Regions from separate parts of the Homo sapiens genome. Here region 2 is linked to region 1. Evidence: fine-mapped expression QTL. A gene starts in region 1. The other region holds a variant in brackets. All regions are shown on one strand. Distances are between the middles of the regions. Region 1 holds the start of CNGB3 (cyclic nucleotide gated channel subunit beta 3). Region 2 overlaps CNGB3 (cyclic nucleotide gated channel subunit beta 3).

Region 1 (8,506 bases):
GTGTGCCTCAGGATGTTCCTACAGGGGCAGAGTGAAACAAGATATGAGGTTAGAACATAAAGATTGACTCCCAAGCTATGCACAGTCTAGAAGGGGAAACAAACACACAAAAATGTTAAGTGCAAGAAAATGTAGGTGACGAATCAATGTCTGTAGAGGATTAGGATGGGGCATAAACAGGAAGTGGTCAATTCTACTGGAGTAGAAGGGAAAGAAAGGAAACTATTCCAAAGAAAGTGACTCTTGACTTTATAAAGATAAGATTTTTGTTTTCCACATGGAGAGGACTTAGAAAATATTCCAGGCAGATGATGCAGGTTTAGCAAAAGCCAAAGGCGTGACTGTACATAGGTGGGGAGAGACTACAGTAGGAGTGGTTGGATGGGACAAAGGGTGAGTAGATGAGGCTTGAGAGTAGGCAGGGACCAGAAGGACACTGAGAGTCTTGTGTGCCTGCTATAGAGTTTTGACATTATTTATAAGCCTTGTGTTTCATAGAAGCATTTTAAACTAAAAAATAAATTAATTGGCTGATTTTCACTTAAGCCTCACAATAACCATATACATTAGGCAAGGCAGCTATTATTATTAATATTATTATATTATTGAATATGAAATTGATTGAGTGGCTAGTTTATATGAACGTAGCTAGAAAGGTATAAGTCCAGGACTATTTATAAACAGTGAAAAAGCCTTCTGACTTCAATCAAGTCCTTTTGCATCGTTATGATGTTATTCATAAATATTTATATCATAGTCTTTATGTGTATACAAATGTAGATTTATGTGAAGAGTGTCTTCTTCTGGGGTAAGAGAGAGTTTGGATTAGACTGATTTGCAGTTCTTAAATTATTGTTTATTGATAGGTGAGAATTACCCATGACATTTTGGTGTGTAAATGAGCTCTTTAAATGACTCTTTAAAAAACACAACATACATTGATATATTTATTCCTAGATATTTGCTTATAAGACTCTAATCATTTATTCATAGTTCAGAGGCTTATTGTTTAAATGCCATTTTGAAAGGTCGAATTCCGTGAAAGAAAACAGGATTTTAACTTTCTGTCATTTTTAACATTTAGCATATTTGAAATTGGAGATAAACTATTTTTTCCCATACCCACATGTTCTTGGAAAGAACAGATGCAAATAATTGCCCAAATATGACTTTTAAGATATAATGTGGCTGAGCACAGTGGCTCATGCGTGTAATCCCAACACTTTGCAAGGACAAGGTGGGCGGAACACCTGAGGCCGAGAGTTTGAGACCAGCCTGGCCAACATGGTGAAACCCCGTCTCTACTAAAAATACAAAAAAATGAGCTGGGTGTGGTGGCATGTGCCTGTAATCCCAGCTACTCGGGAGGCTGAGGCAGGAGAATCGTTTGAACCCAGGACACAGAGGTTGCAGCGAGTCAAGATTGCACCACTGCACTCCAGCCTGGGCGACAGAATGAGACTCTGTCTCAAAAAAAACAAAAAAAAAAAATCTAATGTGATGCCAGTAGACTTCGCGATTAATATCCACAAATTATGGCTGTTGGAATGGCATGGGATATACCTAAGGGGTGCTCTACCTGTGCCTAATCTAAGTACTTCTCCAATATTCCTGTTTTGAAAGGAAAGATAACTCTTTAAGAAGTTTCTCTTCTTTTTTCGCCTTCTCTCTAATTTCCGTTTATCCTGCAGGCAAAGTATCTTAAAGGGTTGACTCAACTAATATCCCTCCTGTTTTGAGCAGTATAGCCTAGTGATTTAGCTCTCAGGTGCTGAATTCAGATAGGACTTGGTTCCAATCCAGGCTCTGCCATTTGCTAGCTATGTGTAAGGAGCAAATTGTAATAGGACCTGTGACTGTTGTGAGGATTAAATACAGTAGCCCTAGAAAAGGGCTTAGCACCTTGCTTGGCAAATAGTAATTGCTGTTAGTTACAATGTTCTCCAAGAGAATAATATATTAGCTATTAACGGTTTTTATGTGCTCCCTTGGAAAATAATCACAGTAGGCAAGGGTTAAAGATGGATGTAGTGACTTTCCCAGAGCAAAACACAGCAAGACTAGCTGAAGGAAAGTACCAGCTCAATATTTGTGACATTGTATGAGTTCTTAAACATATAGATAACTTAGTGTGGGATTATTTATTTTGACATAAGAATTAGAAAGAAGTCAAGGGCACTCTCTCGAAGCAATACTAACACAGTCCTCCTCATCTCCTCTCTACTGCAAAGCAGTCAACATTAATCAGAAAAGGAAGGCAGATTTTCCACGGCCCATGTTAAATAGTCTCAGTGTTGTCTATCCTCTAGGCTCATTTAAACCCGAACCATTGGACTATGCTCCCCTAGTCCCTGAGGAGCACTCCTGCTTGTACTTGTCATCTCTCATCCAGCTGTTTCAGATGGCAAAATAACTACTGCTCTAAAAATCTTCTGTAGCTCTTTTAGATAATTCTAGTGAGTAATTCACGAAAATTATTCTGTGGATAGTTCTAAGTAAATATTGCTCTTGTAATGATCACTTAGGACTTAAACCTGTCACAGAAACACAAATTCTTATTAATAATAATAATAGCCACTTGTAAAGTACCTACCATGTGCTTTATATATTACTGTCTCTAGTTCTCATAACAAAGCAGAAATTATCATATACATTTTGCAGAAAAATATATTTAGAACTTGTGAAAAGGCTTGTTTAAAGTTCCTCCACCTTGGCAGTATTAAAATTTTGTAGTGTATAATTCTACGTTGTGGAGGGCTGTCCTGTACATGATAGGATGTTGAGCAGCATCTGCAGACTTTACCCACTGGATGCCAGTAACATCCCCACCCCGGAGCTATGACAACTGAAAGTGTCCCCAGATTTGCCAAATGTCCCTTGAGTGGTAAAATCGCTCTCAATTGAGAGCCAATAGGTTTCCTATTGCTCTAGAGATTTATTGTTAACATGTGGTTTATGAAGACCAGGATACTTGATGTTCTTTGTTGAAACTCAATCAAGTAACCAATTTAATATTTGAGAAATGGTTTCATTTTGGATGATGGTAGAAGTGAAAATCAGCAATGAGAAGTCTTACTTGGCTTTTCCAAATCCTAGTATAGTCTCCTAAACATTTATTATTCTTTTTATGAACAAATACATACAGAATATATAAATTAATGAAGATAAGCCCGACACAGTACATGTACCAGATGGTGCCAGGTAAAACTACTAAACAATCATATATCGTAGCAGTGATTAAATGCTATTACCAGATAAGAAATGATGAAAATCAAGGCTTGCATAGGAATGTAGAGGACATACCTGTGCTGTGGTTTGCTGAGACTGATTACTTGGGTGAGAGCCTTCTTCATTCCGACGAGAACTTTGTTCATTCTCATTGTTCTCTCCTATAGGCTTCACCTTGTTGACTTTTGTCAGCGATTTAAACATCTTCTCTGAGGTGGTTCTGAAAACCCTCTGTATTTATGACTGTGCCTTAAGGTAGAGAAATGTACTTTGTTTTCCTTTTCTTTAGTAGACAAGCCAATTAGCTGTTTAATCAGGATTTTGTTCTGGTTAATTCCTACAGGCAACTCCTTAGCTAGTCAGGGCTTTGGCTTAAAAGCAGCAAAATACTTCTGCTTGGGTGATTTGCACTCTGTTTATGAACTTTAGGGAGTCAAAATGATCTTGTGAATAATTTAGAAGTAGAGGATTAAACACAGCTTCATAGTTGATTTGAATGGTTTAAATGTGATCACACAACACATTGTTTTCTTTCTTTTTTTTTCCTTCTAATTACCCACCTACTTATCTTTATCTGTCTAACTTTATGCAAAGTAATATGGAAATGATTAAAAAAAATCCATGAGGGCTTATGATATGAAGCAACTCATTCACTCCTCAAAATCCCCTTCTCTGGTCCTGCAATGTTAGGCCACTATTTTTAAGCTTTCTTTTTCTGTTCTTCTGGTGGTTGATTTCCACATGGCTAAACAAAAAAAAATCTGCTTATTCTACTCTGCCTCTGTGTGTGTGTGTGTCACTTTTGACCCCAAACCTGTGTGAGGCAAAGATACAAGACTAAGATTTGTTAAAGAGAACTTTTTTTTCCCCTTTGCCCGGAGCCCAGACAAAGTTGATGTTCTATGCTGTTGGATGAGATTTTTTAGTGCACCAAAGACGCATGATTTTTTTTAAAGGGGTTCTGTTTTTGTTTTTGTTTTTAATGAGAGCACTTATCTTCTGCAGTTTCAAATTAAAACCAAAGCCTTTATGCAACAAGGTACACACCCACACCCAGGGCAGCCTAAGTCAACCCATCAAATACTTCTTGCCCTCTGTATTTTTGCAATCTGGAAATTTCCTTGAGATACTAGTTATGTATTTTAAGATACGTTTATTACAGTTAATACAGAAAAAAGCCTTTAAGTATTTATGAAGAAAGCATTTTAATTTAGATTTCATATTACCAAAATCGCAGTTCCCTTATGGATTTTTAAAATAAATTAGAAGTTTTAATTTTAGATTCAACCATTTTATCAAAAATAAACTTACCTAATAAATAACGTAATTGAATACATGATTTGACTTATATGGCCTGGAAACACAAAGCTATTTATTTTTGTTAAAAAATGGTGGGGGGTGTTTTGGTTCCATTATTGCTTCAGAAATAATTCTGAATAGATTATCAAATATGTATAGGGCCATTTTAGGAACTTTTCAGATAATCCTGTAATCCTGTAATTGATTACATTTTGAACTTTGGGTATAAGCATAGAAGCTAAGCCAAAGGAAGGGAAGGTGTTAACAGCCAGCCTGTGACTAATTTTTTCCCTTCCTAAGACCTGCAGAGGAAAAAATGACCTCACCAGACTTTCGTATAAATCTCATAGTATTTATCAGTGGAAAGATACCAGGGAGTCCCTATTTATGAAACTTTTTTAGCAGGACATTTCTGGTCTGTCTAGATTGCTTATTGTAAATAAGCCTGGAATTTAGCAGGCTGGCTGGAGAATGGAGAGAGAGGTGCTATGTAAGCTCTGTAAGAGAATGTGGAACGAAGATGTCCCCAAACCAAACTGCCTTCTTTTTGTGAGAAATGTTTTTGCAGACAATGCTCAAAAATTACTTGTAAATGCAAAACCAAAATATGCCAACTGCAGGAGAAAAATGGTCTGTTTTGTTTGGATGCTGTGTCTGACAGTTTGGGGTTTTTCCCAAAATGAATGTTTTGTTTATTCCTGATGGCGGCTTGTAGCCAACGAATCATTAATAAAGTTTGGTGCTATGTAAGATCTGTGATTCTGGCTAGTCTGTTTTGACAATTTAACCCTTTAGATTTGTCACAGGTCAGAATAAATGGGATGGAGATATTATTAAATAATTCAAGCACCTTTAAAATGATTTAAAATACCTCCAACAACCTGATTTTTGACAATAGAGTGGCATTAACATGGGCATTAAAATTATAAATGACTACTTTTATTTTGTCTAGATCAGAGGTCTCAAAGTTTGGAAAATGGACAACTAGAAAGAATTCTGGAATGAAGGACATGAATTTTGGATCATTCTTTTTCACTTTAGTAGCTCTGTGGACTAAAGTAAATCTCTTGCCTTAACCTGGAAATAACTAGGTTGGGAAAAAACAATGTTTGTTTTCTTCTGGTTTTAAATTCTGTGATTTGTGGTCTTCCACAGAGGAGCTCTTCTAATCAGCAAGAAGATAAGGGAAGAAGGAGGGTTGCTTATTCTGGGTGAAATGGCTTACTAGAATTTCACCAATAACAATTTAATTTTTTTGTACCAAGTTGCCATATTGCTGAGGTAGTGTATGACAATGGGAATAAAAACAATTTTTCTTCAATATAACGGACTGTTTGTCTAACTGAAGCCCCTCAGCCACTCCTCCTTCTCTACAGCATAAATGTATAAACTCCTTACCAGGACATTCCCGGCCTTATATCATTGACCTTTGCCTAACTCTAGTTTAATCTGTAACCCCGACCTCTCTTTTGGCTCTTGCCATAATCAGTAATTTAAAATAGCTTGAACTTCTCTGCTTTTTCTTGCCTGTACCCATGTCTTTGCTCATGTGTACTGTTCCCCTGCCTGCAACGCTGTTCCACTTCTTGTCTATCTAGCTTAAGCTTGGTGTTTCCTTCTCCTACCGTTCCTCTCTTCTACCATGGACAGCTATACCTATAATCCTGTCTTTTTGTTGCAATTGTATCTGTGCCATACAGAGATCTCTACTTTGTCACTTCTCATTTTACAGCCATGTCCAGGTCTATTTTCTCTATTAGAGCATAAGCTCCTGCAGGCAGAGACTATGCTTTGGCCACCTTCAGATTCCTGTGCCCAGCTCAGTGCTTGACATATTCTAGGTACTCCATGAATGTTTGTTGAATAAATAACAGGAAGAAGATGGTATAGACCATCTCTTAGTTCTAGATTAACAGTGAAGAGATTCTCTGTGGTAGATGCAGTGTGTAAGAGAAGTGGAAAAAATCTCCCTGGAAGAATGCAAATGTTGTAGCCTCATTGTTTTTTATTAGTAGCCATTGCAGGCTGAAGTTGGGATAGGCTGAGAGAAGCATGCATAAAATAATGGTATGTTTTAAAACAAATGGTGTCTTAGATACCGTAGATGGTATACAGATGGCACATAGGAATATAACACGTAAAATACAAATCAGATGGTAATAAAGCTATGCTAAAACAAAAAGATTATCATCATTAGCAAACAGTTCCATATTCTTGTTGTGACTAGTAATTTTATTTTCAGCAGAGCATTAGCCATCTTACAGACAGCATTGTTTTAATCTTATTGATTTTTAAGTTTTATGTTAAATTTTCAAACAAGTTTTAGCTTTATGGTTCTATAAAAATTATAAGCAAATGAAGATTATATCTAGTTTCAGGTTGGAACATATTTAAGTATTATTCTTATGAATTATTCAAATAGGATCTGTAATAAAGTTTTCACTTAATAGGAGTCAGGTTTGGGAAATGCTATCTTTCTTTGAGGGAATCTTTAATGATGGAATTTCAGACATTCCCACTGGGGGCAATTTTGAACGAGGAGGACTTTCTTCTGGTAATTCTCAAATCACAGTCTCCTCTGCTTCTGGACGGGGTCAAGGGTTGAAGACTTGTTTGTTTTTGGCAAATTATTGGAAACAAATTAAGGTTATAAAACCAACTAAGGTTATATTTTCCCCTATGTCTACTAGAAAGAAACATTTAGGCAATTTTCCAAGATCTTTCTGAATTAAGTTCAAGTAGTCTGAATATTATTTCAATAAGAGAAGAGCAACCACCGAGTATAAAGGGAATAGCTGGTTTACAGTAGATAACCTAAAACAGTAATTGAAGGGAAACTCCCAGAAGTTTTCCCCCATCTCAGGTTCAGGGCTGTGTATTTTTAGGAGAAGATAATAACCTGGTAACAAACCTGAACACTGACCAAGTTCTGAAAAATTAACTACGCTGAATATACTTAATAAGGCAGGAAAACAGGTGAGTAAATTATGAGCTTTTTTAAAAAAAATTATAAGACTTTAGAGAAAAAAGTTACTAGCAATGTCTGGTTACCTGCGAACAAGGTTTAGGTGCTCATCTACAAAATGGAAGCTGGAATAACAGGCTAGATTACACAAGCCAAGGAATAAGATGACAGACAAAAATTCCCTGCTGTAAGTTAAATTCTCAACAAATATTTGCCAATCAATTGAATAAAACAAATTGTGTTTTCTGAAGCACTCAAATTTAAAATACTCTGTATATTAAAGCATATAATTCTATTGAGCAGTGAAGATTTGGCTTCTTAGTGTGTGTCAGGTGCTCAGCTAGCTGCTGTGGGGTATACAGAGATGACCAAAATATGGCATCTGCCTGTGCACACTCACCTTTTGGGACGGAAAGATGGAAGGTTTATAGACAATCTCAAGACAGCTTCCATAATGGCAGTGTGCGAGCCATGCCACCTAAGCAGAGAAGAGCAGGTGACCAAGTCTGCCTTTGTGTGAATGGACTGTAAAATGGGGAGTAAAGCTCTGCGGAGGAGCTAATGCTCATGACAGGTTTTGAAAGATGAGAGATATTCCAGGCAGATGTTGAAAGGTCCAGACATCAGAAACAACATCCAGTGAATTAAGGTATTACAATAGTTAGCAGTTTATGTGGCCAGCACAGTGCCCTTAATATAGTAGATACATAACAAAGACTTGTTAAACTACTGTTGAGTATTAACAATAAACATGAAACATATACAATTTTCTTTATATATACTATGTAGACCATATCAGTCTCAAAAGAAACTGATGGCATTGATTTTATGTTCTTTTAATTATTGTAGGATTAGCAAAACGTTAACTTTGCATTCAAAAAATAAATATTCAAAGAACATTTCTGAGTATATTTATTTTTCTTGATGATATTGACTAATGATCTTATGAAGTGGAATTATAGCAACTGATACTTAGAGGAAGTTTTCCCTCATAAAATATGTATAGAATTATTT
Region 2 (8,000 bases), 50 kb before region 1:
GGCTAGCCAGTTTTCCCAGCACCATTTATTAAATAGGGAATCCTTTCCCCATTTCTTGTTTTTGTCAGGTTTGTCAAAGATCAGGTAGTTGTAGATGTGTGGTGTTATTTCTGAGGGCTGTGTTCTGTTCCATTGATCTATATCTCTGTTTTGGTACCAGTACCATGCTGTTTTGGTTACTGTAGCCTTGTAGTATAGTTTGAAGTCAGGTAGTGTGATGCCTTCAGCTTTATTCTTTTGGCTTAGGATTGACTTGGCAATGCAGGCTCTTTTTTGGTTCCATATGAACTTTAAAGTAGTTTTTTCCAATTCTGGTTTGGTATAATTTTAAGTTTTGTTTTGTTTTGTTTTTGCACCTGTTGTAAAAGGAGTTGAGTTCTTGATTTCATTCTCAGCTTGGTTGGTGTTGGTGTATAGCAGTGCTGCTGATTTGTGTACATTTATTTTGTAATCTGAAACTTTACTGAATTCATTTATAAGATCTAGGAGCTTTTTGGATGAGTGTTTAGGGTTTTCTAGGTATACAATCATATCATTGGTAAACAGCAACATTGACTTCTTCTTTATCAATTTGGATGCCATTGATTTCTTTCTCTCTTCTGATTGCTTTGCTTGAGACTTCCAGTACTATGTTGAATAGAAGTGGTGAGAGTGGGCATTCTTGTCTTATTCCAGTTCTCAGGGGAAATGCTTTCAACTTTTCCCCATTCAGTACTATGTTGGCTATGGGTTTGTCATAGATGGCTTTTATTACCTTAAGTTATGGCCCTTCTATGCCGATTGCTATCAGTTGTAGTATCTCCCATTTTGTTTCTAGTTGAGCTTCTTTGGATCTTATCTCTTCTTTTCTTGGTTAATCTTGCTAATGCTGTATTTATTTTGTTTACTTTTCAAATAACCAGTGTTTTTGTTTCATTTCTCTTTTGTATTTTTTGTTTCAATTTCATTTAGTTCTGCTCTGACTTTGGTTATTTCTTTTCTTCTGCTGGGTTGTGGGTTGGTTTGTTTTTGTTTCTCTAGCTCCTTGAGGTGTAACTTTAGATTGTCTCTTTGTGCTCTTTCAGATTTCTTGTTGCAGGTATTTAATGCTGTGAATTTTTTTCTTGGCACTGCTTTTGCTGTATCCAAGAGGTTTTGATGGGTTATGTCACTATTATTGTTCAGTTCAAATAATTTTTTAATGTTCATCTTGATTTCATTGTTGACCAAATGATCATTCAGGAACAGGTGATTTAATTTTCATGTATTTGCATGGCTTCGAGGGTTCCTTTTGGAATTGATTTTCAATTTTATTCCACTGTGGTCTGAGACAGCACTTGCTATAATTTTGATTTTCTTAAATTTATTGAGACTTGTTTCGTATTCTGTCATGTGGTCAATCTTGGGGAATGGTCCACGTACTTATGAAAAGAATGTATAGTCTGCAGTTATTGGGTAGAATGTTCTGTAAATATCTATAAAGTCCATTTGTTGTAGTTTATAGTTTAAGTCCCTTGTTTCTTTGTTGACTTTAGTCTTGATGACCTGTCTAGGGCTGTCAGTAAAGTATTGAAGACCCCCACTAATATCGTGTTGCCATCTGTCTCATTTCTTAGGTCTATTAATGATTGTTTTATAAGTTTGGGAGCTCCAGTGTTAAGTACATATATATTTAGGATTGTGATATTTTCCTATTGGACTAATCCTTTTATTATTATATAATGTCCCTCTTTGTCTTTCTTAACTGGTGTTGCTTTAAAGTCTTTTTTGTCTGTTAGAATAACAGCTACTCCTGGTTGCCTTTGTTGCCCATTTGCATGGAATGTCTTTTTTCACCCCTTTACCTTAAGTTTATGTGAGTCCTTTGTGTTAGATGAGTCTCTTGAAGACAGCAGACACTTGGTTGGTGGATTTTTATCCTTTCTGCCATTCTGTATCTTTTAAGCGGAGCATTTAGGCCATTTACATTCAATATTAGTATTGACATGTGAGGTAGGTACTGTTTTATTCATCATGCTAGTTGTTGCCTAAATACCTTTTTTTTTCATGGTGTTATTGTTATAGATTCTGTGAAGTTTTTGCTTTAAGGATGTTCCATTTTGGTGTATTTTGAGGTTTTGTTTCAAGATTTAGAGCTCCTTTTAGCAGTTCTTATAGTGCTGGCATGGTAGTGGTGAATTCTCTCAGGATTTGTTTGTCTGGGAAAGACTATATCTTTCCTTCATTTATGAAGCATAGTTTCACTGGATGCAAAATTCTTGGCTGATTATTGTTTTGTTTAAGGAGGTTAAAGACAGGACCCCAATCCCTTCTGGCTTGCAGGGTTCCTACTGAGAAATCTGCTGTTAATCTGATAGGTTTTCCTTTAAGATTACCTAATGCTTTTGCCTCATAGCTCTTAAGATGCTTTTCTTCATCTTGAGTTTAGACAACCTGATGACTGTGTGCCCAAGTGTTGATCTTTTTGCTATGAATTTCCTGGGTGTTCTTCTAGCTTCTTATATTTGGATGTCTAGATATTTAGCAAGACTAAGGAAGTTTGCCTTGATTAGTCCCTCATATAAGTTTTCCAAACTTTTGGATTTCTCTTCTTACTCAGGAACAACAATTATGTTTTGTTGTTTAATGTAATCTCAAATTTATTGGAAACTTTGTTCATTTTTTTTTATTATTATTATTATTTATTTATTTATTTATTTATTTATTTTTATTGATTATTCTTGGGTGTTTCTCGCAGAGGGGGATTTGGCAGGGTCATAGGACAATAGTGGAGGGAAGGTCAGCAGATAAACAAGTGAACAAAGGTCTCTGGTTTTCCTAGGCAGAGGACCCTGCGGCCTTCCGCAGTGTTTGTGTCCCTGGGTACTTAAGATTAGGGAGTGGTGATGACTCTTAACGAGCATGCTGCCTTCAAGCATCTGTTTAACAAAGCACATCTTGCGCCGCCCTTAATCCATTTAACCCTGAGTGGACACAGCACATGTTTCAGAGAGCACAGGGTTGGGGGTAAGGTCACAGATCAACAGGATCCCAAGGCAGAAGAATTTTTCTTAGTACAGAACAAAATGAAAAGTCTCCCATGTCTACTTCTCTCTACACAGACACGGCAACCATCCGACCTCTCAATCTTTTCCCCACCCTTCCCC[C/A]CCTCTCCATTCCACAAAACCGCCATTGTCATCATGGCCCGTTCTCAATGAGCCATTGGGTACACCTACCAGATGGGGTGGTGGCCGGGCAGAGGGGCTCCTCACTTCCCAGTAGGGGTGGCCGGGCAGAGGCGCCCCTCACCTCCCGGACGGGGCGGCTGGCCGGGCGGGGGGGCTGACCCCCCCACCTCCCTCCCAGACGGGGCGGCTGGCCGGGCGGGGGGCTGACCCCCCCACCTCCCTCCTGGACGGGGCGGCTGGCCGGGCGGGGGGCTGACCCCCCCCACCTCCCTCCCGGACGGGGCGGCTGGCCGGGCGGGGGGCTGACCCCCCCACCTCCCTCCTGGATGGGGCGGCTGGCCGGGCAAAGGGGCTCCTCACTTCCCAGTAGGGGCGGCCGGGCTGAGGCGCCCCTCACCTCCCGGATGGGGCGGCTGGCCGGGCGGGGGGCTGACCCCCCCACTTCCCTCCCGGACGGGGTGGCTGGCCTGGCGGGGGCTGACCCCCACCTCCCTCCCGGACGGGGTGGCTGCCGGGCGGAGACGCTCCTCACTTCCCAGACGGGGTGGCTGCCGGACGGAGGGTCTCCTCACTTCTCAGATGGGGCGGCTGCCGGGTGGCGGGACTCCTCACTTCTCAGACGGGGTGGTTGCCAGGCATAGGGTCTCCTCACTTCTCAGACGGGGCGGCCGGGCAGAGACGCTCCTCACCTCCCAGACAGGGTCGCGGCCGGGCAGAGGCACTCCTCACATCCCAGATGGGGCGGCGGGGTAGAGGCGCTCCCCACATCTCAGACGATGGGTGGCCGGGCAGAGACGCTCCTCACTTCCTAGATGGGATGGCGGCGGGGAAGAGGCGCTCCTCACTTCCTAGATGGGATGGTGGCTGGGCAGAGACGCTCCTCACTTTCCAGACTGAGCAGCCAGGCAGAGGGGCTCCTCACGTCCCAGACGATGGGCGGCCAGGCAGAGACTCTCCTCACTTCCCAGACGGGGTGGCGCCCGGGCAGAGGCTGCAATCTCAGCACTTTGGGAGGCTAAGGCAGGCGGCTGGGAGGTGGTTGTAGCGAGCCGAGATCACGCCACTGCACTCCAGCCTGGGCATCATTGAGCACTGAGTGAACGAGACTCCGTCTGCAATCCCGGCACCTCGGGAGGCCAAGGCTGGCGGATCACTCGCGGTAAGGAGCTGGAGACCAGCCTGGCCAACACAGCGAAACCCCGTCTCCACCAAAAAAATACGAAAACCAGTCAGGCGTGGCGGTGGCGCCTGCAATCGCAGGCACTCGGCAGGCACTCGGCAGGAGAATCAGGCAGGGAGGTTGCAGTGAGCCGAGATGGCAGCAGTACAGTCCAGCTTCGGCTCGGCATCAGAGGGAGACCGTGGAAAGAGAGGGAGAGGGAGACCATGGGGAGGGGGAGAGGGAGAGGGAGAGGGAGAGCCTTTGTTCATTTTTTAAAAAATTATTTTTTTCTTTGTCAGATCAGGTTAATTCGAAGGCCTTGTCTTTGAGCTCTGAAGTTCATTCTTCTACTTGTTCAATTCTATTGTTGAAACCTTCCAGTGTATTTTGCATTTCTCTAAGTGTGTCTTTCATTTCCAGACGTTGTAATTGTCTTTTCTTTACGATATCTATCTTTCTATGGAATTTTTCATTCATATCCTCCTTTTTGTTTTTAATTTCTTTAAGTTGGTTTTCACCTTTCTCTGGTGGCTCCTTGAGTAGCTTAATAATCAACCTTCTGAATTCTTCATCTGTCAGTTCAGAGATTTCATCTTGGTTTGGATCCATTGCTGGAGAGCTAGTGTGATCTTTTGGGGGTGTTATAGAACCTCATTTAATAGTATTACTAGAATTACTTTTTTAGTTCCTTCTCATTTGGGAAAGATTTTGGACTCAAGGGCTGCTGTTCAGATTCTGTTGTCCCATGGAGTAATCCCTTGATTTGGTGCTCTCCCCCTTCTCTTCGAGATGGGGCTTCCTGAGAGCTAGACCACAGTGATTGTTATTGTTCTTCTGAATCCAGCCACCCAGTAGGGCTACTGGGTGCCAGGCTGGTGCTGAGGAATGTCTGAAAAGTGTCCTGTGATTTGATCTATCTTCAGGTCTCCCAGCCATGGATTCCAGCACCTGCTCTGGTGGAGGTGGCAGGAGAGTAAAAGGGACTCTATGGGAGTCCTTGGTTGTAGTTATTTTTTGGTGTGCTGGTTTTCTTGAATGCTGGTTATGCTAGCAGTCAAGTTGTCATGTGGATGGACTCAGGACCTCTGATTAGCCAGGGCGTTGCAGGCAGTGGAGTTATCTATTGTTTTCTCCTTCTTTAGAGCAGGGTGTTCTGTTATGAGTTGCTGTAATGGCTTGAGTTGATTGGCCTCCTGTCAGGAGGTGGTGCTTCCAAGAGAGTACAGCTGCAGTAGTAGAAGGGGGATATAATCTTGCCCTGAGTTGGCCAGGATGAGTACTCAGGTTTCTCAGGTGATGAGTGGGGCCATAGAGATCCCAAGAGCTTACGTCTTTTGTCTTCAGGGTTTTTTGGCTGGTTTTTGGCATCTGCAGTGACAAGCCACTTCTTTCAAAGGGTCTGTGAATTCTTCCAGTTTTTCCAGTATGTTCCTACAGTGGTTCTTGGAGCAAAAGTTCATAATGTGTGTCTCCAGACACTGTTCTATCCATCCAGTGGGAGCTGCGTGTTAGTCCTGTCTTCTATCCACCATTTTTCCTATGATTGTTATATCCTCTTGCTGAATTGACACCTTTATCATTATATAAAGACCTTCTTTGACTCTTTTTAGAATTTTGTTTTGAAATTTATTTTGCCTTATATACACATAGCTACTCCTGCTTCGTTTTGGTTTTTAATGGCATGGCATATCTTTTTCCATCTCTTTATTTTCAGTCTCTGTGTGTCTTTATAGGTGAAGTGTGTATCTTTTAATCCGTTCAGCCACAGTATGTCTTTTGGTTGGTGAGTTTGGTCCATTTACTTTCAATGTTATCATTGAATATAAAATAATGAGTTATAGTATATTATTTGCAACCCTCATGATAAGCTCAAATCAAAAAACATGCAACAGATGCAAAAAAATGAATTAAAACATACCACCAGAGAAGATCACCTTCACTAAAAAGAGACAGGAAGGAAGGAAAGAAAGAAGGAAGAGAAGACCACAAATCAACCAGAAAGCAAATAACAAACTGGCAAGATGAAGTCCTTACTTATGGATGATAACATATTTTGGGTGGATAGTTGTTCAATTGGTGTTCTTGTAGGAAGTAAGATTGCTTGAGGCTTCTATTTGGCTACCTTGCACTGCCTCCAAAATCTGCTTGCATTTGTTTTACTCTGTTATTTCAATTTACTACTCTTTATTCCATCACAGATATATTAACTATCCTATCTTATTTTATTTATGGATTTGGAATCTATGAGTTTATCTTGGTCCTGGCAAAGAATTGTTGATCTTCACAATACAAAATATAGATTCTGTAGTTATATCATTAGAGATCAAGTTAACACTCTTAATACAGAGTCTGTAGTTATGTCATTAGAGATCAGGTTCATTTATTAAAATTCAGTGGGCACAATTGTTCAGCTTGCTATGAATTCACTGGTACACTTTTCCAACTGTATGAAAGATATTACAAGACATTTTCAAATTATTTACTAAAATAATATTAATTGGACTTTAAAAAAATTTTAGCAAAACTCACTTGCTATCTAGGAACCCTTTTCTTATTTTATTTAATTGTTTATTATACTTTAAGTTCTAGGGTACATGTGCACAACGTGCAGGTTTGTTACATATGTATACATGTGCCATGTTGGTGTGCTGCACCTGTTAACTCATCATTTACATTAAGTATATCTCCTAATGCTATCCCTCCCTCCTCCCCCCACCCCATGACAGGCCCTGGTATGTGATGTTCCCCACCCTGTGTCCTAGTGTTCTCATTGTTCAGTTCCCACCTATGAGTGAGAACATGTGGTGTTTGGTTTTCTGTCCTTGCGATAGTTTGCTCAGAATGATGGTTTCCAGCTTCATCCATGTCTCTACAAAGGACGTGAACTCATCCTTTTTTATGGCTGTATAGTATTCCATGGTGTATACGTGCCACGTTTTCTTAATCCAGTCTATCATTGGTGGACATTTGGGAACCTTTTATTTTCTAAGTGCTCAAAAATCACATTTAGCCATTGATTCTGGTGTTCTGCCAAAGATCTGATAAAGCTGTGTGACCGATAGTTTCCAGATTCTATATCATATCCCTCTTTGAAAATGAATTCATTTGTTCATTTGTATACAGCAGATTCAAGTTATTAGTAAATGAAGATTCTTCTAAATGTCATTTGTTATTTAGATAGTCTTTGAAAACCAAATATAAGTATCATTTTCATCAGGGACAAATAACAGATTTGAATCTACCTTTGTATGAATGTTATTATGACTTTATAGTCTAGGTTAGCTAATTCTCTTTAATGAGTGGAATAAAAAGCACATTTCAACCTTGTACTTGGTGGAGGCTTTAATTGGGGCAAGGACATTTTTATACAAAGATAGAGAAAACAATCGCCTATGGAATTTGATTCCTTGCTCCATTCCCTCGCTAGCACCTCTCCACATGCTTGATGATATTTAAAATTTCTTCATAGGGAAAAAGCTTTTCATCCCACAATTAGAATCAGGCTTAACTTGCTTTTTGAAGAGGTAGTAGGTAATTTGTGTTAAGATATAAATTACCAAGATTTTTGTATCTTGAAACAGATTTAGATGATAGAGTGAGGTAGGTGGTGGTGGTTGGTGGGAAGGGGTAGTTTGTTAGAGAGGGTGTTAAGAGTTGGGATTTTCAACGTGAGAGAGGTGAAGGTTTGAAAA

Evidence for each region. PIP is the estimated chance that this variant, and not a neighbour inherited with it, causes the effect.
Region 2: its variant is fine-mapped to the expression of CNGB3 in testis (GTEx, PIP 0.94).

Annotation. Positions count from the first base shown.
Region 1 is chr8:86,740,196-86,748,701 of GRCh38, forward strand. CNGB3 (cyclic nucleotide gated channel subunit beta 3) reads right to left here and starts at 3,439. Exons shown (of 18, transcript NM_019098.5): 1 at 3,304-3,439. The coding sequence starts at 3,432.
Region 2 is chr8:86,690,777-86,698,776 of GRCh38, forward strand. The region is part of intron 3 of CNGB3 (cyclic nucleotide gated channel subunit beta 3); the gene reads right to left. Among named protein-coding and RNA genes, the nearest start is that of CNGB3, 49 kb to the right of the region's middle. RefSeq lists an enhancer at 3,247-3,892. The variant C/A (reference allele first, on the strand shown) is at 3,126.